2 separate regions of the Homo sapiens genome follow, and region 2 is linked to region 1. Evidence: fine-mapped expression QTL. Tissue or cell type: lung. Region 1 holds a variant in brackets; the other region holds the start of a gene. All regions are shown on one strand. Distances are from middle to middle.

Region 1 (11,768 bases):
TCTCTCTCTGTCGCCCAGGCTGGAGTGCAGTGGTGTGATATCTCGGCTCACTGCAAGCTCCACCTCCCGGGTTCACACCGTTCTCCTGTGTCAGCCTCCCCGAGTAGCTGGGACTACAGGCGCCCGCCACCACCCCCGGCTAATTTTTTGTATTTTTAGTAGAGACGGGGTTTCACCGTGTTAGCCAGGATGGTCTCGATCTCCTGACCTCATGATCCGCCCGCCTCAGCCTCCCAAAGTGCTGGGATTACAGGCATGAGCCACCGCGCCCGGCCCCAAAAGTATTTTTATAAAACCGAGCAACTGGGTTGGGCGTGGTGGCTCCCGCCTGTAATCCCAGCACTTTGGGAGGCTGAGGCGGGAGGACCATCGGAGCCCAGGAGTTTGAGAACAGCCTAGGCAACATGATAAAGCCCTGCCTCTACAGAAAATACAAAAAATTACCCAGGCGTGGTGGCACCTGCAGTCCCAGCTACTCAGGAGGCTGAGGCAGGAGAATCGCTTGAACCTGGGAGGCAGAGGTTGCAGTGAGCTGAGATCGCACCACTGCACTCCAGCCTGGGTGACAGAGTGAGACTCTATCTCAAAAAATAAAAACATAATAATAAATTTAAAATAAGGCCGGGTGCAGTGGCTCATACCTGTAATCTCAACTTTTTGGGAGGCTGAAGTGAGCAGATCATGAGGTCAGGAGTTCGAGACCACCCTGACCAACATGGTGAAACCCCATCTCTACTAAAAATACAAGAAAGAAAGAAAGAAAGAAAGGGAGGGAGGGAGGGAGGGAGGCAGGCAGGCAGGTAGGCAGGAAGGAAGGAAGATAGCTGAGCATGGTGGTGCACGCCTGTTATCCCAGCTACTTGGGAGGCTGAGGCAGGAGAATTGCTTGAGCCCAGGAGGAGGCAGAGATTGCAGTGAGCCGAGATCATGCCCTTGCAGTCCAGCCTGGGCAACAGAGCAATTCCATCTCAAAAAAAAAAAAAAAAAAAAAAGTTAATTTTAACATTTAAATGATGATAATAAACAGCAATTTGGGGAGAAATGCTCTCGTGTGGCAAAATAGTAAGTTCGCGATCCTATGAGAATCCTCCTAGGTTTTTTTTTTTCTTTTTTCTTTTTTTTAAAAAATATTTGTGGAACTTCTGGAAACTCCCAGAGCCAGACATGTTTGACTGAGGCCCTCTAGTGGCTGTAGGTACCAAGTACAATACAATTTGGGTTCCTCGTGTGAGTGTATTTGTGTGTTCATGAGTGTGTGCATGGTGCACACGTGTTCATTTGCATGCGTTTGTGCATGCATGTGTGTGTCTGCGTGTGTATCTATGTGTGCATGCGTGTGTGTGTGTGTGTGTCCATCACCTAGTGAGAGGCAGGGGCGGGGCAGAGTTTCTCATCTGCATTGTAACAAATACATTTTGGGAAAAACAGATAAATATAATTCCCATCAGGACCCCCCTGAAAGGAAAGGAAGTCTTTTTTTTTTTTTTTGAGATGGAGTCTCACTCTGTCTCCCAGGCGCGACAGAGTGCAGTGGCACAATCTCAGCTCATCACAACCTCCACCACCCAGGTTCAAGCGATTCTCCTGCCTCAGCCTCCTGGGTAGCTGAGATTACAGGTGTGTGCCACTACGCCGAGCTAATTTTTGTATTTTTAGTAGAGATAGGGTTTTGCCATATTGGCCAGGATGGTCTCAAACTGCTGACCTCAAGTGATCCACCTGCCTTGGCCTCCGAAAGTGCTGGGATTACAGACATGAGCCACCACGCCCCATCAGGAAGTCTTTCAAGAAGCACTTAAGGCCAAGTGTGGTGGCTCCTGCCTGTAATCCCAGCACTCTGGGAGGCTGAGGCAGGAGGATTGCTTGAGCTCAGGAGTTCGAGACCAACCTAGGCAACATAGCAAGACCCCATCTCTACAAAAAATTAAATAATGAAGACAAGAAACATTTAAAATTAAAATTTTATAATGTTTTCAGTGAAAATGAGTGGTTGTGCGTGCCAGTAGTCCCTGCTACTCGGGAGACTGAGGTGGGAGGATTGCTTGAGCCCAGGAGTTGGAGCCTGCAGTGAGCTATGATCACACCACTGCACTCCAGCTTGGGAGACAGAGTGACACCCTGATAAAAAATAAAAAAGAAAAAGAAAAAAGGACATGATGCCAGGCGTAGTGGCTCACGCCAGTAATCCCAGCTCTCTGGGACGCTGAAACGGGAGGATTGCTTGAGCCCAGGAGTTCCAGTTCAGCCTGGTAACATGGTGAAACCCTGTCTCTACAAAAAATGCAGAAAATTAGCCAGGGCCGGGCGAAGCCAGCTGGGCTCCTGAGTCGAGTGGGGACTTGAAGAATTGTTATGTCTAGCTGGAGGATTGTATATGCACCAGTGAACACTCTGTGTCTAGCTAATCTGGTGGGGACTTGGATAACTTTTATGTCTAACTAGAGGATTGTAAATGCACCAATAAGCACTCTGTGTCTAGCTCAAGGTTTATAAACACACCAATCAGTGCTCTGTGTCTAGCTAATCTAGTGGGGACTTGGAGAAATTTTAAGTCTAGCTAAAGGTTTGTAAATGCACCAATGAGCACCCTGTGTCTAGCTCAAGGTTTGCAAATGCACCAATCGCACCAATCAGTGTTCTGTGTCTAGCTAATCTAGTGGGGACTTGGAGAACTTTTGTGTCTAGCTAAAGATTTGTAAATGCACCAATCAGCACCCTGCGTCTAGCTCAGGGATTGTAAACACACCAATCAGCACCCTGTCAAAACGGACCAGTCAGCTCTCTGTAAAATGGACCAATCAGCGCTCTGTAAAATGGGCCAATCAGGAGGATGTGGGTGGGGCCAGATAAGGGAATAAAAGCGGACTGCTGGAGCCAGCAGCGGCAACCGGCTTGGGGACCTTTTCACAGTGTAGAGGATTTGTTTTTTAATTCTCTGCGAGAAATCTTGCTGCTGCTCACTCGTTGGGTGTGAGATGCTTTTATGAGCTGTAACACTCACTGTGAAGGTCTGCAGTTTCACTCCTGAGGCCAGCAAAACCACAAACCCACCAGGAGGAATGAACAACTCCAGACACGCTGCCTTAAGAGCTGCAACACTCCCTGGGAAGGTCTACAGCGTCACTCCTGAAGCAAGCAAGACCACGAACCCACCAGAAGGAAGAAATTCCGAACACATCCGAACATCAGCAAGAACAAACTCCGGACACACCATCTTTAAGAAATGTAACACTCAGCGTGAGGATCCGCAGCTTCATTCTTGAAGTCAGTGAGACCAAGAACCCACGAATTTCGGACACAGTAACATGGGGAAACCCTGTCTCTACAAAAGAATGCAAACAATTAGCCAGGGCCAGGCATAGTAGCTCACCCCGGTAATCCCAGCACTTTGGGAGGCTGAGGCAGGTAGATCATGAGGTCAGGAGTTTGAGACCAGCCTGGCCAACATGGGTGAAACCCTGTCTTTACTAAAATACAAAAATTAGCTGGGCAGACTGGTACGCGCCTGTAATCCCAGCTACTCAGGAGGCTGAGGTTGGAGAATTGCTTGAACCCGGGAAGTGGAGGTTGCAGTGAGCCGAGATCATGCCACTGCACTCCAACCTGGGCAACAAAGGGAGACCATGTCTCCAAAAAAAAAAAAAAAAAAAAAAAGCTGGGCGCGGTGGCTCCCACCTGTAATCCCAGCACTCTGGGAGGCCGGGTTGGGCGGATCATGAGGTCAGGAGATTGAAACCATCCTGGCCAACATGATGAAACCCCGTCTCTACTAAAATACAAAAAACATTAGTTGGTCATGGTGGCATGTGCCTGTAGTCCTAGCTACTCGGGAAGCTAAGGCAAGGGAATCGCTTGGACCCAGGAGGCAGAGGTTGCACTGAGCCAAGATCGTGCCACTGCATCCCAGCCTGGCAACAGAGTGTGAGACTGTGTCAAGAAAAGAGAAGGAAAGAGAAAGCTAGCCAGCCAGGCGTGATAGTGGGCGCCTGTGGTCTCTGTGGTCTAGCTACTTGGGAGGCTAAGGCAGGAGGATCACCTGAGCCCATGAGGTCGAGGCTGCAGTGAGCAGTGATTGTGCCACTGCACTGAAGCCCGAACAATAGAGACCTTGTCTCAAAAAAATAAAACATTTAAAAAAATAAAAATGAGAATTCAGCCCTTCGCAAACAGCTCACCATTTTAGTTGGAGATGAGAGGCTGAGTGGAGAGCGGGAGGCGTTCTGAACTATTTCTGCAACTTCCTGAATCTGCAGTTGTTTAGAGTAGAAACAGAGTGAGGTTGGGACACAGAGGCGGGGCAATTCAGTCCGCCCACCAGGGTGCTCGTGTTTCTTTAGTTTCTTGAACGAGAAAACATACCGTTTTTAGAATTGGTTCAGAATATTCTATCTACTGAATATATGGCTACGTAAATACCCATCTAGCATATCTATCCATTTAGGATAAACGGAATTGGGACCCAGCTTTCACGGTTTACGCGGTTGCTATTTGCATGGTTTAAATGTTGTAATTACGGCCATTTTTTTTGCGCTGGTGTGCACTTCTGGTAGTTTTAACGTATTTTTGACCAAAACTCGTGCTCTCATGGTTTCTGTGGTTGCTCTCGTAGTTTTTATTTAGATTTTTTTCTGCTGCTGCTTGCATCAGCATAGGAATTTTTTATGACTATTATTTTTGCTGTACTTTGTACTTTGGACACAACACAGCCAACAGCTAAAAACCAGTGCTTTCTGCCTGGCGTGGTGGCTCACGCCTGTCATCCCGGCACTTTGGCAGGCTGAGGCGGGCAGATCACCTGAGGTCAGGAGTTCCCGACCAGCCTGGCCAATGTGGCGAAACCCCATCTCTGCTAAAAATACAAAAATTAACGCTGGGTGCAGTGGCTCACGCCTGTAATCTCAGCACTTCGGGAGGCCAAGGCGGGTGGATCACCTGAGGTCAGGAGTTCCAGAGCAGCCTGGCCAACATGGTGAAATCCAGTCTGTACTAAAAATACAAAAAAACTAGCCAGGTGTGGTGGTCCACGCCTGTAATCCCAGCTACTCAGCAGGTTGAGGCAGGAGGCTGAGGCAGGAGGATCGCTTGAACCCGGGAGATGGAGGTTGCAGCGAGCTGAGAAAACACCACTGCACTCCAGCCTGGGTGACAGAGTGAGACCCTATCTCAAAACAAACAAGGCCGGGCGCGGTGGCTCATGCCTGTTAATCCCAGTGCTTTGGGAAGCCAAGGCTGGCGGATCATCTGAGGTCGGGAGTTTGAGACCAGCCTGGCCAACATGGAGAAACCCCATCTGTACTAGCTGGGTATGGTGGTGCATGCCTGTAATCTCAGCTACTCCGGAGGCTGAGGCGGCAGGAGAATTGCTTGAACCCGGGAGGCGGAGGTTACAGTGAGGCGAGATCATGCCATTGCACTCCAGTGTGGGCAACAAGAGCAAAACTCTGTCTCAAAACAAACAGGCCGGGTGTGGTGGCTCACGCCTGTAATCTGAGCACTTTGGGAGGCCGAGGAGGGCGGATCACGAGGTCAGGAGATAGAGACCATCCTGGCTAACACAGTGAAATCCCGTCTCTACTAAAAATACAAAAAAATTAGCCACGCGTGGTCGTGGGTGCCTGTAGTCCCAGCTACTCGGGAGGCTGAGGCAGGAGAATGGCATGAACCCGGGAGGCGCAGCTTGCAGTGAGCCGAGAT[T/C]GCGCCACCGCACTCCAGCCTGGGCGACAGAGCGAGACTCTGTCTCAAACAAACAAACACAAACCAACCAGTGGTTTTTGAAGATGACCTCATGGGACTGTGGCCGGAGAGTCCTGATGGCCTCTGGCTGTGCTCATGCCCCTGCCATAGGAGGCGGGGACTGTCATTTCACCGTCTCCTGATGCCATTCCAGAGGTTACGCCCTGAAGTCAGCTCAGATCCTGGGCCAGGCACTGCATGGGAGACAGGCATGAGCAGGACCTCTTTCTGCCTTCGAGGAAAACACGGGGGCATCTGGGGCTCACTTGGCACTCATCCACCTTGTGCTGTACCTGGGGACCTCCGGGTGGGTGGCTGTCATAGAATTCGGCTCCAAACCAGGATGCTTTTGGGAATTGAGGGAGAGCCCTGTGAGTAGCTATTCAGGGCTATCACGGGGGCGTCGACCACCCCACTGCGTGTCAGGAGTGACCACCAGGGTGTGTGAGTGCAAACAGGGCGGGGCCTGGGTGGCAGCTCAGCGGAGCCCTGAGCCCCCAAAGGTGGGCTCTCTCACGGGCCCTGGTCTCGTCCCCAGCCTTCCTCTCTACACAGGGCTTCCACGTGGACCACACGGCCGAGCTGCGGGGAATCCGGTGGACCAGCAGTTTGCGGCGGGAGACCTCGGACTATCACCGCACGCTGACGCCCACCCTGGAGGCACTGGTGAGGGTGGTCTGTGTTTGGGGGCCAGGGAGGAAGAGCGGGTGGCCGGGGGCTTTGACCTGGAGGTGCTTTCCGTGTGGGAGGGAGGCAGGCCACAGGCAACGAAGCTGAGGTGGAGGCTGTGAGACCGGGAGGCCAGGCCAGGGGGCGGGCAGGACGAGGCCAGGTGGCCAAGGCAGATACCTGCAAGGCAGAGCTGTATCCACTGAGGACACACTCACATGGGACTTTAGGCCACATTTAGAGGTTTTTTTTTTTTTCTTTTTTTTCTTGAGACGGAGTCTCACTCTGTCACCCAGGCTGGGGTGCAGTGGAATGATCTCGGCTCACTGCAAGCTCCGCTGCTCAGGTTCAAGCGATTCTCCTGCCTCAGCCTCCCGAGTAGCTGGGATTACAGGTGCACGCCACCACGTCCAGCTGATTTTTGTATTTTTAGTAGAGACGGGGTTTCACCATGTAGGACAGGATGGTCTTGAACTCCTGACCTCAAATGATCTTCCCTCCACGGCCTCCCAAAGTGCTGGGATTACAGGCGTGAGTCACCGTACCCAACCTGCCACATTTAGAGTTTTACATTTTATTCTAAAGGGGAATCAGAGCCCTCATGCACAGCTGGGGGAAGGTATTTTATTTTATTTTTTTGAGACGGAGTCTTGCTCTGTTGTCCAGGCTGGAGTGCAGTGGCAGGATCATGGCTCACTGCAACCTCTGCCTCCCGGGTTCAAGCGATTCTCCTGTCTCAGCCTCCTGAGTAGCCAGGGTTACAGGCACCCACCACCTAGGATGAACAGGGAAACACAGCGTGGCTATGCACACACTGGAATATGACTCAGCCAGGAAAAGGGGCCAGGCTTGGACACAGGACACAGCGAATTATATTTTAATGAAAAAATAATGTTTTCCATTTTATTCGAAGAGAAACAGACGTGTGACCACATCAGCAATCACGTATTAAAAACAGCACTCCAGGCGGGCACGGTGGGTGGCTCACATCTGTAATCCCAGCACTTTGGGAGGCCGAGGAGAGTGGATACCTGAGGTCAGGAGTTTTGAGACCAGCCTGAGCAACATGACAAAATCCCACCATTAGTAAAAACACAAAAATTAGCGGGGCGTGGTGGTGTGTGCCTGTAGTCTCAGCTACTCGGGAGGCTGAGGTGGGAGGATTGCCTGAGCCCAGGAGGCAGAAGTTGCAGTGAGCCAAGATCGTGCCATTGCACTCCAGCCTGGGTGACCGAGTGAGACTCCATCTTAAAAAACAATTTTTAAAAATAGGCTGGGCGTGGTGGCTCACGCCTGTGACGCCTCCTGGGCTCAAGCAATCCTCCCACCTCAGCCTCCCGAGTAGCTGGGAGTGCAGGCACACACCACCATGCCCAGCTAATTTGGGAGGCTGAGGTGGGCGGATCACGAGGTCAGGAGTTCAAGACCAGCCTGGCCAACATAGTGAAACCCTGTCCCTACTAAAAAATACAAAAAATTAGCCACGCATGGTGGTGTGTGCCTGTAATCCCAGCTACTTGGGAGGCTGAGGCAGGAGAATTGCTTGAACCTGAGAGACGGAAGTTGCAATGAGCCGAGATCGTGCCACTGCACTCCACCCCAGGCGACAGAGCAAGACTCTGTCTCAAAATAATAATAATAATAAAAAATTTAAAAATAAAACATAAGTCTGGGCGTGGTGGCTCACAACTGTAATCCTAGCACTGTGGAAAACCAAGGCAGGTGGATCACAAGGTCAGGAGTTCGAGACCAGCCTGGCCAACATAGTGAAACCCCATTTCTACTAAAAATACAAAAAATTAGTTGGGCATGGTGGCGGGCACCTGTAATCCCAGCTTCTTGGGAGGCTGAGGCAGCAGAATCGCTTGAACCTGGGAGGCGGAGGTTGCAGTGAGTGGAGAATGCACTACTGCACTCCAGCCTGGGTGACAGAGCAAGACTCTGTCTCACAATACATACATACATACATACGTACATATAGATAAAAATTTAAAATAATAAAAGGAAATGCTTTCCCATGGAACCAACCCCTTCTCCAGCTCCCTCCAACACCTGACAGGCCTCTGCAGTGCCAGGGTGCCCATGCTGTGGGTCTCAACATTTGATATTCTTGTTTCTATTGCAGTTTGTAAGTAGTTTTCAGAAGACAGAGTTAGAGGCAAGCTGCGTGGGTTGCTCGGTACTGAATTATAGGTGAGTTGGAGCTTCCATTGGGTGAAGGAAACTTGGTGGACATCTGGGAGTTTCTGGAGGAGTCCAGAAAAGTTTGGAAGATTCTAGAAGATTCCAGAAGATTCCAGCAGGGCGGAGCCCCTCCCTCTCCAAGGGCCTCTCCTCCATACCTGTAGGGATGGGAACTCCAGTGTCCTCGTACATTTCCAGCTGCACTTTCTGCTGCGACCCCTCCAGACGCTGAGCCTGGGCCTGGAGGAGGAGCTATTGCAGCGAGGGATCCGGGCAAGGCTGCGGGAGCACGGCATCTCCCTGGCTGCCTATGGCACAATTGTGTCGGCTGAGCTCACAGGTGAGTGGGCAGCCGAGACCGAAACCCCATCACGAGGAGGCTGGAGTGGGGCAGGAGCTGCAAGATACATTTTGATAACCACCCCTTCCCATAAAAAGAAAACAAACTGGCCGGGTGTGGTGGCTCATGCCTGCAACCCCAGCATTTTGGGAGGCCGAGGCGGGTGGATCACCTGAGGTCAGGAGTTTGAGACCAGCCTGGCCAACACCCCATCTGTACTAAAAATACAAAAATCAGTTGGGCGTGGTGGTGTGCACCTGTAATCCTACCTACACAGGAGGCTGAGGCAGGAGAACTGCTTCAACCTGGGAGGCGGAGGTTGCAGTGAGCCGAGATCGTGCCATTGCACTCCAGCCTGGGCAAAAAGAGTGAAACTTCGTTTCAAAAACAAACAAACAAACAAATGTAAAAACTGACATTGCCTTTGCCTTAATGGTGTGGATAAGGGGTCAGCCATCTTGTTCTGTAAAGAGCCAGAGTGTTGTGTTGTGTTGTGTTGTCTTGTCTTGTCTTCTCTTTTCTTTTCCATTTTTTTTATTTTTGAGACAGGATCTCACTCTGTTGCCCAGTCTGGAGTGCAATAATGAAGTCTTGGCTCACTGCAGCTTCTGCCTCCCAGGTTCAAGCAATTTTCCTGCCTCAGTAGCTCCCGACTCACTCCCGAGTAGCTGGGATTACAGGCACGCACCACCACGCCTGGCTAATTTTTGTATTTTTAGTGAGATGGGGTTTCACCATGTGTACTGGGCTGGTCTTGGACTCCTGACCTCAGGTGATCCTCCTGCCTTGGCCTCCCAAAGTGCTGGGATTATAGGTGTGAGCCACGTGCCCAGTTAATATTTTCATCTTTGTGGTCCGTTGGGTTTCTGTGACAAGCACTCAGCTCTGTTATTTGTAGCACAAAAGTAGCCACAGACAATACATAAATGAATAGGTGTGGCTGTTTACCAATAAAACTTATTAAAAATAACAAGCAGTGGGCTGGATTTGGCCTATGGCCGTAGTTGGCCAACCCCCTACTGTAGAATCAAGGATAAATGCTACACTCTAATAAAATTGTATGGAAGGCCGGGTGTGGTGGCTTATGCCTGTAATTCCAGCAATTTGGGAGGCCAAGGTGGGCTGATCACTTCAGATCAGGAGTTCGAGACCAGCCTGGCCAACATGGCGAAACCCCGTCTCTACTAAAAATACAAAAATGAGCTGGGTGTGGTGGCACGTGCCTGTAATCCCAGCTGCTCAGGAGGCTGAGGCAGGAGAATTGCTGGAACCCAGGAGGCGGAGGTTGCAGTGAGCCAAGGTTGCACTACTGCACTCCAGCCTGGGTGACAGAGTGAGACTCCATCTCAAAAAAAAATTAATAAAAATAAAAAATAAAATTATACAGTGCATGATTTTGTATGCACCTGGTTTTAAAAAATAAAAAACAAAATTGTACGGTGCAGCAGGTCATGATTGGAGAGTCAGATGCAAGTTCAGACCATTGTTAAAGATTTGTTGCCAGGTGTGGTGGCTCATGCCTGTAATCCCAGCACTTTGGGAGGCCGAGGTGGGTGGATCACCTGAGGTCAGGAGTTTGAGACCAGCCGGGCCAACACGGTGAAACCCCATCTCTACTAAAAATAAAAAAATTAGCCGGGCATGGTGGCGGGCGCCTATAATCCCAGCTACTTGGGAGGCTGAGGCAGGAGAATTGCTTAAACCTGGTGGAGGTGGAGGTTGCAGTGAGCCAAGATAGCACCACTGCACTGTAGCCTGGGTAACAGAGTGAGACTCTGTCTTAAAAAAAAAAAAAAAATGGCCGGGCGCGGTGGCTTACGCCTGTAATCCCAGCACTTTAGGAGGCCGAGGTGGGCAGATCACAAGGTCAGGAGATCGAGACCATCCTGGCTAACACGGTGAAACCCCGTCTCTACTAAAAATACAAAAAATCAGCCGGGCGTGGTGGCGGGCGCCTGTAGTCCCAGCTGCTTGGGACGCTGAGGCAGGAGAATAGCGTGAACCCGGGAGGCGGAGCTTGAAGTGAGCCGAGATCGCGCCACTGCTCTCCAGCCTGGGCGACAGAGGGAGACTCCGTCTCAAAAAAAAAAAGTCACCTTGACCTTGACATGCAGGACATTTATGGTTCCCTCCCCACCAACCGTCACATGCTGGTCGAGGTCTTAATAACCTCTGCTCCAGCGTTCACAGAACTTCCCTTGGTGATAGGGAGGTTCCAGGCCTTGTGCAGTTTGGTGGCCGTCCGAGCCCTGGGGCTGGTGAGTGCTCCCCGTGGGGCAAGTGAGACTGAGGATCGGTGTTGAAGTAGATTTCATCCTCGCTGATTGAAGGCAGAATTTAAGTGACGCCAGGGTGGACAAGGCAGCTGCTCACTTTACTCCATGACCTGCCTGCAATAGGACGTTTTCTTTCTTTCTTTTTTCTTTTTTTTTGAGATGGAGTCTCGCTCTGTCGCCCAGGCTGGAGTACAATGGTGTGATCTCGGCTCACTGCAACCTCTGCCTCCCGGGTTCAAGCGATTGTCCTGCCTCAGCCTCCCGAGTAGCTGGGATTACAGGCGCCCGGCACCACACCCGTCTAATTTTTGTATTTTTAGTAGAGACAGGGTTTCACCATGTTGGCCAGGCTGGTCTGTAACTCCTGACCGCAAATGATCCACCCGCCTCAGCCTCCCAAAGTGCTGGGATTACAGGTGTGAGCCACCGCGCCCGGCCAATAGGATGTGTTCAAAGGGTTTTACCGCTTATTCAGTGAGCTTCTATCTTCTCTGTTTTGTTGCAGGGAGACATAAGGGACCCTTGGCAGAAAGAGACTTCAAATCAGGTATGTTTTTCTCTCTGGC
Region 2 (11,768 bases), 35 kb before region 1:
TTGTATAGCATCCTCACGTCTCAAAAGAGTTTATTATTATTTTTTTCTCTTTAAAAATGCAAAGACCTGTCTTAGCCGCTTTGGGACAAGGTTTGGTTTCCAGCTGCTGCTGGCTGGCGCTGGGCCTGTGGGCACGTGGGTGATGGATGCGGGTTTGTGTGCGGGCCGAGAGGCCAGTGAGTCCTGAGCATCTGCCAGGCATCAGGGGCTGCTGTGTGTGTTGTTCTAGTCTCACAAAGTTCTCCGCTACGTTAGAGAAAGTGAGACCCAGGCTGGGCATGGTGGCTCACGCCTGTAACCCCAGTGCTTTGGGAGGCTGAGGTGGGAGGATTGCTTGAGCCTGGGAGTTTAAGACCAGCCTGGGCAACGTAGCAAGACCCCATTTCTACACAAATTACCTGGGTGTGGTGGCACACACCTGTAGTCCCAGCTGTTCAGGAGGCTGGGGTGGGAGAATTACTTGAGCCCAGGAGGTCAAGGCTGCAGTGAACTGTGATCGCACCACTGCACTCCAGCCTGGGTAACAGAGCGAGACCTTGTCTCCAAAAAAAAAAAAGGCCACCAGCAAGCCTCTGAGGCCACATGGCTGTGAGGGATCAGAGACATGGATTCCTCCAGGCCCTGAGCCAAACCACGACTGCCTGGCAGCGTGACGCCCTTGGCCTTAATGTGGAACAGGGTGAGGACGCAGCGGGAGATGGAGGCTCAGGCCTTACCACTCACAGCAAACCTGAATTCAAACCCACTGGGGAAGGGACGGCTTAATCACGGAAAGCGAATTCCAGAATACTTGAAGTCACACTTAGGTTTCGGTTTTTTAACTTGAGCAGTTCCTCGATACGCTCCAGAAGGAGCACCCCCAATTGCCTTTCCACGGGGGAGCTCACTGCTCGGAGGCCACTCGGCGCTGGCTCTGAACACCTCCCCTGTGTGCCTCTAGTGGTGATTTGTCCTGTCCAGGAAAAGAAAAAGTCGCTATGTCATTAGCTCCGGTGGACCTGAGCCTCAGGGCTGAAAGTTACAGTCAGGACTCAGCGCACAGAGCCCTGGGCTCACACCACGTCCACCTGTGACCACCTGCGGTCGTGGGCAAGTCCCTCTGCCTCCAACTCCCTGTCCTCTGGAAAGAGGGTTAGTAATGTACCTACTGCAAGGCACGACAGCCAGGATGTCACCAAATCAGCCATCTGATTGGACGCTTAGAAGCAGTCGGGACTTTTGTGCTAGTGACACACTTGATTCAGGAAGACGGGCTCCTGCCAGGCTCAGCCGGTGCCTGAGCTCCGGGGGGTGTGCACACCTCGACTGTCCAGGTCACACACGGTCCAGGGATGTCAGGGAGAGGTAGAGCTGGGGAAATGGAAACAGGCTGCTTGTTGGCACTGGGGAGGGTATTTTGTTTCTTTTCGTGGGGAGCATCCCTCTGTCTTGCAGTTTAAGTTACAAAGTGGAGCAATATGGTAACAATAGTGATTTTCTTTCACTAAGCTGACCAGAGCTTACACATTTTTTATCCACCCACCTATCCATCCATTTATCCAACTGGCCATCCACCCATCCATCCATCCACCCACCCACCCATTTATGTAACCATCCATCCATCCGTCCGTCCGTCTGTCCATCCATCCATCCGTCCATGCATCCATCCACCCACCCACCCACCCATTTATGCAACCATCTGTCCACACATTTATCCATCTGTTCATCCACACACCCACCCATTCACCCACCTGTCTGTTCAGTTATCCATCCGTCCATACACATACCCTCCATCCACTCATTTATCCAACCATCTATCCACACACCCATCCACCCATTTATCCACCCATTCATCCACCCATTCACCTATCCACCCACTCATCCATTTATCTACCCATCCATCCACTCATTCATCTATCCACCCATCCATTTATCCAACATCCATCCACACACCCATCCATCTATCCGTCCATCCACCCGCCCACCCACCCACCCATCCACACACCTATCCATTTATCCAACCATCCATCCACCTATCCACATACCCATCCACCCAGTTATCCAACCACCCATCCACTTATCCACATATCCATCCATCCAGCCACCCATCCACACACCCATCCACCTACTTATCCACCCATCCGTCTCCATCCATTGATCCACCATCCATTTGTCCATCCATTTACCCATTCACACATCTATTCATCCATCCATCCATCCATCCATCCATCCATCCATCCATCCATCCATCCATCTACACACCCAACCATCCACTCACCCACACACCCACCCATCCACACACCCATTCATCCATCTATCCATCCATCCATCCATCCATCCATCCATCCATCCATCCATTCATCCATCCATTCAACCACCCACTCACCCATCTATCCACCCATCCACCCATCTACCCATTCATTCATCCACCCACCCACCCATTTATCCATCCATCCACCTATCCACCCACCCACCAATCCATCCATCCATCTACCTGCCCATCTAGCCATTCATCCATCTACCCACCCCTCCACTCATCCATCCATTTGCCCATCCATCCACCCATTATTTACCCCTCCACCCATCCATCCATCTGCCCACCCACCCATCCATCCATCTACCCACCCACCCATCCATCCATTTGCCCTTCCATTCAACCATCCATCCACCCACCTTCCACCCACCCACCCACTCATCCATTTACCCATCTATCCACCTGTCTACTCACCCACCCATCCATCCATCCATCCACCCATCCACTCATCCATTCATCCACCCACTCACCCACCCATCCACACACACACCCATCTATCCATTTATCCACACACACACCCATCTATCCATTTATCCACACACACACCCATCTATCCATTCACCCATTTACCGTCCGTCTGTCCATCCATCCATCCATCCCTCCATCCACCCAACCACCCATCCACCCATCCACACACACTCATCCACCCACCACTCTTCACTGCTGTGTGCCAGGTCCTCTACTAAGCACCCCGTCTGGCCCAGGCAGAGAGCTGCTATAGCTGCACGAGGAACCGGGACTCAGTGTTTGGGGCCAGGTGGGAAGTCATCAGAAGGTGAGAGGGTGGAGTTCTGGAAAGAGTCCACCAATGGCCCTGAGGAAGAGAGGAGGGGGTTCCCATGGGGTCACAGGCTCTTCTCCACACGGCTCAGAGCAGGTTAGAAATGCCTCTTGGGAACCAACCGCAGCCTGCAGCCTGACAGGAGGGTGGGCAGAAGAATGCAGCAATAGGAGGCCCTGGGTGTGGAGCCCCAGCTTGAATCCCAGGAGCTGGATGACTGGCTCTCAGGGCTGTAGCCACTTCTTCTGCTTAAAAGGAGGTGACAGCTACTTTTGTGAGGCCATCATGAGAACCTAGGGGAGTCCCTGCCGAGTGCCGGGCACACAGCACATACTCAGTAGACTGGACCATTCTGCGGGCGACTGGGGAAACGTGGACCCAGGAGCTGGATCCTCCAGGACTGCTCTCCCTCCAGCACCAGGCGTGGCTCCCCGGGACTTGCGGCACTTCTCAAAAGCAAATCACCAACAAAGACGCTCTGCCAAAGGTAATAAAATGGGGCTGGTCTCTAAAGGCAGTTCCAAAAAAAATTTCCGCAAAGTCTCTTGAGATAAGAGAGGAGACAGTGGTTCTAACGAAGTGCACCGTCTCCTTCGACGGCACGGAGGAACGTGAACAACCTGGTGACCTAAGCAGGAGGGGCGGCCAGCGTGGCAGCGGGTGGCGCGTCAAAACTGAGGCCACCCAGTCTGACCATGAGGGAGAAAAGCACCAGACAAACCCACTTGAGGCGTGTCCTGCAAAACACCTGACCTGCCTTCCCCAGGAGCGGGCAGGGTGTCAGAAATAGGAATGTCTGGGAAACTGCGACAGCCCAGAGAGATCCGAGGAGGCGTGACGCCTAAATGCCACGTGGGATCTCGGGTGGGGCCCTGAGCAGGAAAGGGCATTGGGGGAAACTGAGGAAACTGGAATCAAGTGTGGACTTCACAGTCGTGCATCAATAGTTGTTCATTGGTTGTGACAAATGTATCACACTGGCCTGGATGCCAGTAACAGGGGACCCGGGATGTGGCGCACAGGGGAGTTCTGAACTGTCTTTGCACATTTTGTGGGAATCTAAAACTCTTCTAAAACGTTTAGGCTGGGCACGTTGCTGACTCCTGTAATCCCAGCGCTTTGGGAGGTCGAGGTGGGAGGATGGCTTGAGCCCAGGAGTTCGAGACCAGCCTGGGCAACATGGCAAGACCCCATCTCTATTTTTTTAAAAAATTAAAAATTTATATTAAAAATACTGTAGTTCCTTCCCGGGCAACATGGTGAGACCCCCATCTCTACTAAAAATACAAAAATTAGCCTGGTGTGGTGGCAGGCGGCTGTAGTCTCAGCTACTCCAGACTCTGAGGTGGGAGGATCACCTGAGCCCGGGAGGTCAAGGCTGCAGTGAGCTAAGATCGCGCCACTGCAATCCAGCCTGGGCGACAGAGAATGAGACCCTGTCTCAAAACACACACACACACACACACACACACACACACACAAAATGGTTACACCAGTGCCCTAGAAAACGCCCTCAGCACCTCGCCCCCAGGGCTGTCCTGGGCACACCCCTCCCTGCGCCCTGTCCTGAGTCACCTGCCCAGGTGGGCCCACCTGCCCACAGCGCCCACTCTGCGGGCAACCCCCACCCCATGGCTCCCAGCTGCGAAGCCCACTCCCATCCCTGGCTACCCCCAACCCCTCCCCATCTCCATCGTCTTCCACTCTGGGTTGGCTCCCGCCAGGGTTGGGAATCCAGGGTGGAGGTGGCAGAGCCCTGGGACCCCTGTCCTCCGGAGACTCCAAGCCTGGGCGGCACCCCCGGCCCGGAGCAGGAGGTACTGGGGAAGGGGCTTGGCAGGGGGCCGGGGGAGGGGCGGCTCCCCCACCCGGCCCCGCCCCGCCCCTCCCTTCCTCCAGCCCCGGGCCCAGCTCCGGCTTCTGCTCCACTTCGGGGTGGGCGGGATCCGGGCAGTAGCGGTGCAGCCTCGTCGTCCGGAGCGCGGTGAGTCGGGGTCTCCTGCGGGCTCAGCCTCCCCTCGGAACAGCCCCCACTTCCTCCAACCCCGGTGAGTCGGGGTCTCCTGCGGGCTCAGCCTCCCCTCGGAACAGCCCCCACTTCCTCCAACCCCATTCGCCAAGCCCCGGGGCTGTTTGGTTGCCTCTGGGGCTGTGTAGAGGTGGCGTGGCGGGAGTGTGTAGATGCAGCCAGGCTGTGTAGACACCACCGGGGTTGTGGAGAGGCAGCCGGGGCTGTGTGGACGCCACTGGGGTGTGTAGACATGGCCAGGTTGTGTAGATGCGGCCAGGGTTGTGTGGACTCAGGTGCCGCGTGTAGATGTGGCCGGGGTTGTGTGGACGCAGGTGCGGCGTGTAGATGCGGCAGGGGTTGTGTGGACGCAGGTGTGGTGTGTAGATGCGGCGGGGGTTATGTGGACGCAGGTGTGGCGTGTGGATGCGGCCGGGGTTGTGTGGACTCAGGTGTGGTGTGTAGATGCACGTAGGGTTGTGTGGACGCAGCCGGGATTGTGTGGATGTATCTAGCGTGTGTAGATGTGGCTGAGATTTCTAGACGAGGCCAGGCTGGGTAGATGCCGCCAGGGTGTGTGGACGTAGCCGGGATTGTGTGGATGCAGCTGAGATGTGTAGATACAGCTGGGGTGTGTAGATTCGGCCTAGTTCCTGGAGGGGCCTGGGACCGCCGAAGCCCTCCCCATCCCTGTTCCCACCCAGAGTCCTCCCTTCTTTTCTACCCGTGAACTTCACCTAAAGCAAGAACCAAGCATCAGCCTGGAGCCCTCTGGGGTCAGGGGTGGCGGGAAAGGGGCTGACAGCTACTGGGATGGGGTGCAGGGCTGGGGTGGGAGGTGAGTCTGGGGTGTGGTGCGGGGCTGGGGTGGGAGGCTGGGGTGGGAGGTGGGGCTGGGGTGGGAGGCTGGGGTGGGAGGTGGGGCTGGGGTAGGGTGCAGGGTTGGGATGGGGTGGGGTGCTGGGATGGGTTGGTGGGGTGCAGGGCTGGGATGGGTTGGTGGGGTGGGGTGCGGGGCTGGGATGGGGTGGGAGGTGAGTCTGGGGTGGGAGGGGGGGCTGGGGTGGGAGGCGGGGCTGGAGTGGGTGCCAGGCATCTGACTGGAGCCTCTCCTCCCGCCCCAGTTCTCACCCTCGGAGCCGCTTCTGAGTAAACACACACTGGGATGTAACAATTGGAGGTGGGTGAAGGGCCTGAGATGGGGTGGGTTGTTGGTATTTGCCTGAGGGAGGGTCCTCCTGGATTCAATTAGCCCCGGCAGGAAACCCAGGCTGGGGACCGTGGCGTTATCCCCGCATGACCGGGAATGACCCACATTCTGGGAATTAGGGCGGGGTCCCCAGGACAGGCGTCCGTGCTCGAGGGTCCTCTGTGGCCCAGGGACCTTCGACTTCCTTCCGTCATTTTATAGGGGGTCAAACCAGGCCTCGGACCCAGGCATGGGCTCCAGAGGTTGCCAGAGGTTTTGGGGACTTGCCAAAGGGTTCAGGCACTGCCCCGCAGGACTGCATGGCCGGAAACACCTTGTGGGCCGCGTGGTGGCCACCGCCTTGCAGATCAGGGATGCCCCGCAGGACACCTGTGGTCCTGGCTTCCTGACGCCTTCCTGGGGGCCTGGCTGGGTGGGGCTGTGTGAGATTCTGGGTGAGTTGTCTGTGTGGCTGTGTGTGATTGTGTGTGATCATGTGATTGTGTGTGATGTGTGGTTGTGTGTGGCAATATATATAATTGTGTCTGTAGCTGCATATGGCCATGTGATTTGTGTGTGATTGTGTATTATATGTGTGTGTGGGGTCATGAGTGATCGTTTATGTTGTGTAATTGTGTGATTGTGTATGGTTGTGTGTGGTCATGTGTCATGTCATGCGTGATTGTGTATGGTTGTGTAATTGTGTGGTCGGGTGGGATCGTATATGGTTGTGTGTCGATGGCTGTATAACTGTGTGTATAGTTGTGTGGTCATGTGTGGTTGCGTATAGTTATGTCATGATGTTTGTGTGATTGTATAGGATTGTGTGTGGTTGTGCGAGATTGTGTGACTGTGCAGCCATGTGTGTCATTGTGCCTGTGATTGTGGTGGAGGTGTAATTGTGTGTATGGGTGTGTGACTGCATGTGTGAGACCGTGTATGGTTGTGTGTTGTATGGGAGGTTTCTGCAGCTGTGTGGTTATAGTGTACGGTTGTGTGTGTGATTGCATGATGAGAATTGCATGATTTTGTGGATGGCTTTGTGTGGTTGTGTATGGTTGTATAATTGTGTTTGTGTGTGATTGCATATGATTGTGGCAATATGTGTAATCGTGTCTGTATGACTGTGTATGGTGGAGTTGTGATTGTATCAGTGTATGACTATATGTGTGAAGTTGTGTTTAGCTGTATGGTCATTGTATGTGAGATTTGTGGAGTTGTAACGTGGTTGTGTGTGTACTTGCATGATGAGATTGTGTATAATTTGTGGATGGTGGAGTGAGGTTGTGTGTGGTTGTATGTGGTTGTGTGAGGTGTGTTTTGTGAGGGTGTGTGTGGTTGTGGTGTGTGGTTGTGTGAGGTTGTAATGTGTGGTTGTGTTTGGTTGTGTGAGGTTGTGTGTGGTAATGTGTTGTGTGTGGTTGTGTGTTGTGTGTGTGTTGTGTGAGGTTGTGGTTGTGTGTGCAAATCCCCTCTTCCTAGTCTTCTCATCTGGGGCATGGGGATCAGGGTCCCAGCGCTCAGGCTGGCCTGACCGTGGGGTAATTGGGCCCTGCAGAGCCTCACGCCGCCTGCTTGTCCTGCCACGCGGAATGGGAGTCCGTGTGTGCCCCGCTGCCCACAGCGTGTGAACGTGAGTTGGGGACCATGTGGCCCACTGCGCGCTGGGTCCCGTCCCTAAAGAGCATTCTTGGACTGTCTAAAATTCCCTTTGCAGAATTTGGAATGTTTAGGGTGTAAAATACGGAGCTTGGAGAGTCCTTAGGCAAAAGGTGTTGGTGGCCGGTTGCCCAGGCTGGGGACTCTGTCCGCGGGGCGAGAGCTTGCAGGAACGCTGGAGCATCGGAGTTCAAACCCTGTTGTCACTGTGGTTGGTTAAGGGCTTTGCGGAGACGTGGAGGCATGGTAGATGGATCGCAGGTGAGGGCGGAATGAAGGCAAAGGCGTCCCTTCTCTGATGGCAGACACATGGGTGGAGATTTGAGGTAGGAGCAGTTGTGGGGGGGTGGGGGGACAGGCGAGAGTGTGGGAGGGAGTGAGGTCGCGTGATTCCCCGTGCATCTGTGCGTGCAACTGTGGGTGATGGAGCTGGTGCTTGGGGAGGCAGGACTGGACCCTGGGTGCCGACACTGGGGCAGGGTTTAGAGCTCCCGGCCCTGCGCCCCTCGGTCCCCCAGGCTCACCTGGCTTAGCTGGGGAGCAGGGTTCTCGGGGAGCATAACAGGGAAGCTGCCCAGCAATGTGGAGGAGTCACTAGAATTCCAAGAACTCTGTGTGTGAGTGTGTGTGTGTGTGCGTGCGCGCGTGTGTGTGTGAGAGAGAGAGAGAGAGTGAGAGTGGGAGGGAGGGAGGGAGGGAGAGGCAGAGAGAGCCTTAATCTCCTCCTCTGTAAATGGGCATGCTGATATTAGCTGGACCTGTCTCCTGTATACCCTGGGATTATTGGGAGGGCTGGATCAACTCTCATAAGCCTATGAGCCCTACACCAACAGGACGCTGTTGGTATAAGCACATCTCAGCCTCCCGGTAGTCCTGTAGACCCAGCACCTGTAGTCCCAGCTACTCAGGAGGCTGAGATGGGAGGATCGCTTGAGCCCGGGAGTTGGAGGCTGCAGTGAACTGTGATCACACCACTGCACTCCAGCCTGGGTGACGGAGTGAGACCCTGTCTCAAATAAATAAGTGAATGAATGAATGAATGAATGAATGAAAGACGCATAAATAGAAGAAATTTAGAAGCCCAAGAATGAAGCTGAGGCGAACCTTGGGGTTTTATTGAAGTTGATGGTTGACGCAGCCCTGCAGGCTGTTCTAAGCCATTGATGTTTCTGTGTGTTGCTCTGAAATGGATGCAGAGGATAACATATTCTGGGTGATCCACTCATAACTGCATAAGGCTTCCTTTGTTGTTGTTGTTTTGCAGAGATGGGATCTCACTATGTTGATCAGGCTGGTCTTGAATTCCTGGGCTCAAGGAATCCTCCCACCTTGGCCTCCCAAAGTGCTGAGATTACAGGCGGGAGCCACGGCACCCAGCCCTTTGTTGTTTTGTTTACACTTTACCTTTATGAAAAAAAAAATTGGGGGGGATAATTTTAGTTGTGAAGATGGTGCAGAGAGTCCCCGCACACCCACCTTCCACCCAGTGTCCCCTTGCGTTGACACCTTTGACCACAGAACAAAGAGCAAAACTGGGCCGGGAACGGTGGCTCACGCCTGTAATCCCAGCACTTTGGGAGGCTGAGGCGGGCCGATCATGAGGTCAGGAGATCGAGACCATCCTGGCTAACACGCTGAAACCCCATCTCTACTAAAAATACAAAAAAAATTAGCCGGGCCTGGTGGCGGGCGCCTGTAATCTCGGGAGGCTGAAGCAGGAGAATGGCGTGAACCCGGGAGGCAGAGCTTGCAGTGAGCCAGGATCGCGCCACTGCACTCCAGCCTGGGCGACGGAGCGAGACTCCATCTCAAAAAAAAAAAAAAGAGCAAAACTGACGCACGACTGTGGGTGCCACACTCTGTCTTCCCACCAATATTTCTGTTCTACGTTGCAATCCAGGATCCCACATTGCATTTAGGAGCTGTATTAATTTTAAATGATACAACTCATAAGTGATTGGAAGGTTATTTTTTAATCTCTGCGTTTTCCTCTGGGTCCCTTAGTATCACTCATGTTTATCGGCGTCTTCCCTCCCACACGATTACTGACTCCTTTCTCCTCTGTCCACATTATAAAGCTAAAAGAACACAAGATACCATTGCTGCAAATAGTTTTCTCACAAACACCTCTTCCCATGAAAGCCTAACAAAAAGACCATAGACAAAATGAAAAAAAAAAGGAGACCAAGCTTATTAAATTTCCTGTAGGCTTGCTGAGTGATTTATTTCATGATGTTGGGGCGATGGAGGAGGGGAGGATTTCCTGACTAGATTCAGGCCTGAGGACAGGGGACAGGAAGAAATAAGAGAGGCCATGGCGTAGACAACAGCTGTCTGTTCTATAAACGGGCTTTGGCTGCCGTGGGACCAAAGATGCGGAATCGAATGGGATGGACGTGTCCGAAAACTGTGATCATCTTGGATTAGGTGAAGGAAAAAACAAACAAACAAACAAAAAAAACAAAAAAACTACACAGACAGGTGGGCAAGACAGCTAAAGAGCCCAGACCGAGGCTGGGGGCATGATGGTGCAGGCTTGTAGTCCCAGCTATTTGGGAGGCTGAGGCAGGAGGATCACTTGAGCACAGGAAGTTGAGACCAGCTGGGCAACATAGCAAGACCCCATCTGTACAAAAACTAAAAAAATGAGCCAGGCATGGTGGTGTGCACCCATAGCCCCAACTATTTAGGAAGCTGAGGTGGGAGGATTGCTTCAACCCAGGAGTTGGAGGCTGCAGTGAGCTGTGATAACACCACTGCACTCCAGCCTGGGTGATAGAGTGAGATTCTGTCTCAAAATAAATAAATAAATAATTTTAAAAAAGAGATGGAGAAAGAGAAGAGAAGAAATTTAGAAGCTCAAGAATGAAGCTGAGGTGAACCTTTGGGTTTTATTGAAACTGCTTGGAAAAAAAGGGAACCCCCTGAATTTCTCCTTGGAGAGGTTGAACCATGGTTTTGAGCAACTAGAAAACATTGGCCATTAAAAGCAGAGAGTGAGACCCTGTCTCTACCAAAAATTTAAAAAATTAGCCGGGTGTGGTGGTGCACACCTGTAGTCCTAGCTACTCAGGCGGCCGAGGTGGGAGGATTGCTTGAGTCCAGGAGGTTGAGGCTTCAGTGAGCTGTGATAGCATCAGTGCACTCCAGCCTGGGTGACAGAGTGAAACCCTATCTCAAAAACCAAAAAAGTAAATAAGGAACACCAGACAGAAGAGCCCTGGGACCTGCCGTCCTGTGTATTAGTTTTTGGTTACTGCATAACAAATGTCTCTCAAATTTAGCCAATTAAAACAACAGACATTTATTCTGTCACAGTTTCTGTGGGCCAAGGATTTGGGAGTGATTTATCTGGGTGGTTCTGGCCCATGGTCTCTCATGAGGTTGCAGTTAAGACATGGGCCAGGGGCTGGGTGCGGTGGCTCACGCCTGTAATCCCAGCACTTTGGGAGGCTGAGGAGGGCAGATCACAAGGTCAGGAGATCAAGACCATCCTGGCTAACACGATGAAACCCCACCTCTACTAAAAATACAAAAAATTAGCCGGGCGTGGTGGCGGGCACCTGTAGTCCCAGCTACTCAGGAGGCGGAGGCAGGAGAATGGCGTGAACCCAGGAGGTGGAGCTTGCAGTGAGCCAAGATTGCGCCACTGCACTCCAGCCTGGGCGACAGAGCGAGACTCCATTTCAAAAAAAAAAAAAAAAAAAAGACATGGGCCAGGGCTGCCTCATCTGAAAGCTCGTCTGGGCCTGGAAGAGCCACTTCAAAGCTGGTGTCCTCATGTGGCTGTTGGTGGGAGGCCTCAGTTCCTCACCACATGGGAATCACCATAGTGCTG

The links. PIP is the estimated chance that this variant, and not a neighbour inherited with it, causes the effect.
Region 2: it holds the start of TMPRSS9, and the variant in region 1 is fine-mapped to the expression of TMPRSS9 in lung (TOPMed, PIP 0.94).

What each region holds. Positions count from the first base shown.
Region 1 is chr19:2,390,268-2,402,035 of GRCh38, forward strand. It overlaps TMPRSS9 (transmembrane serine protease 9), which reads left to right. Exons shown (of 19, transcript NM_001395513.1): 3 at 6,272-6,399; 4 at 8,528-8,595; 5 at 8,751-8,926; 6 at 11,708-11,749. Among named protein-coding and RNA genes, the nearest start is that of TIMM13, 31 kb to the right of the region's middle. RefSeq lists an enhancer at 4,107-4,196. The variant T/C (reference allele first, on the strand shown) is at 5,695.
Region 2 is chr19:2,355,239-2,367,006 of GRCh38, forward strand. It overlaps TMPRSS9 (transmembrane serine protease 9), which reads left to right and starts at 5,027. Exons shown (of 19, transcript NM_001395513.1): 1 at 5,027-5,122. RefSeq lists a silencer at 3,346-3,557.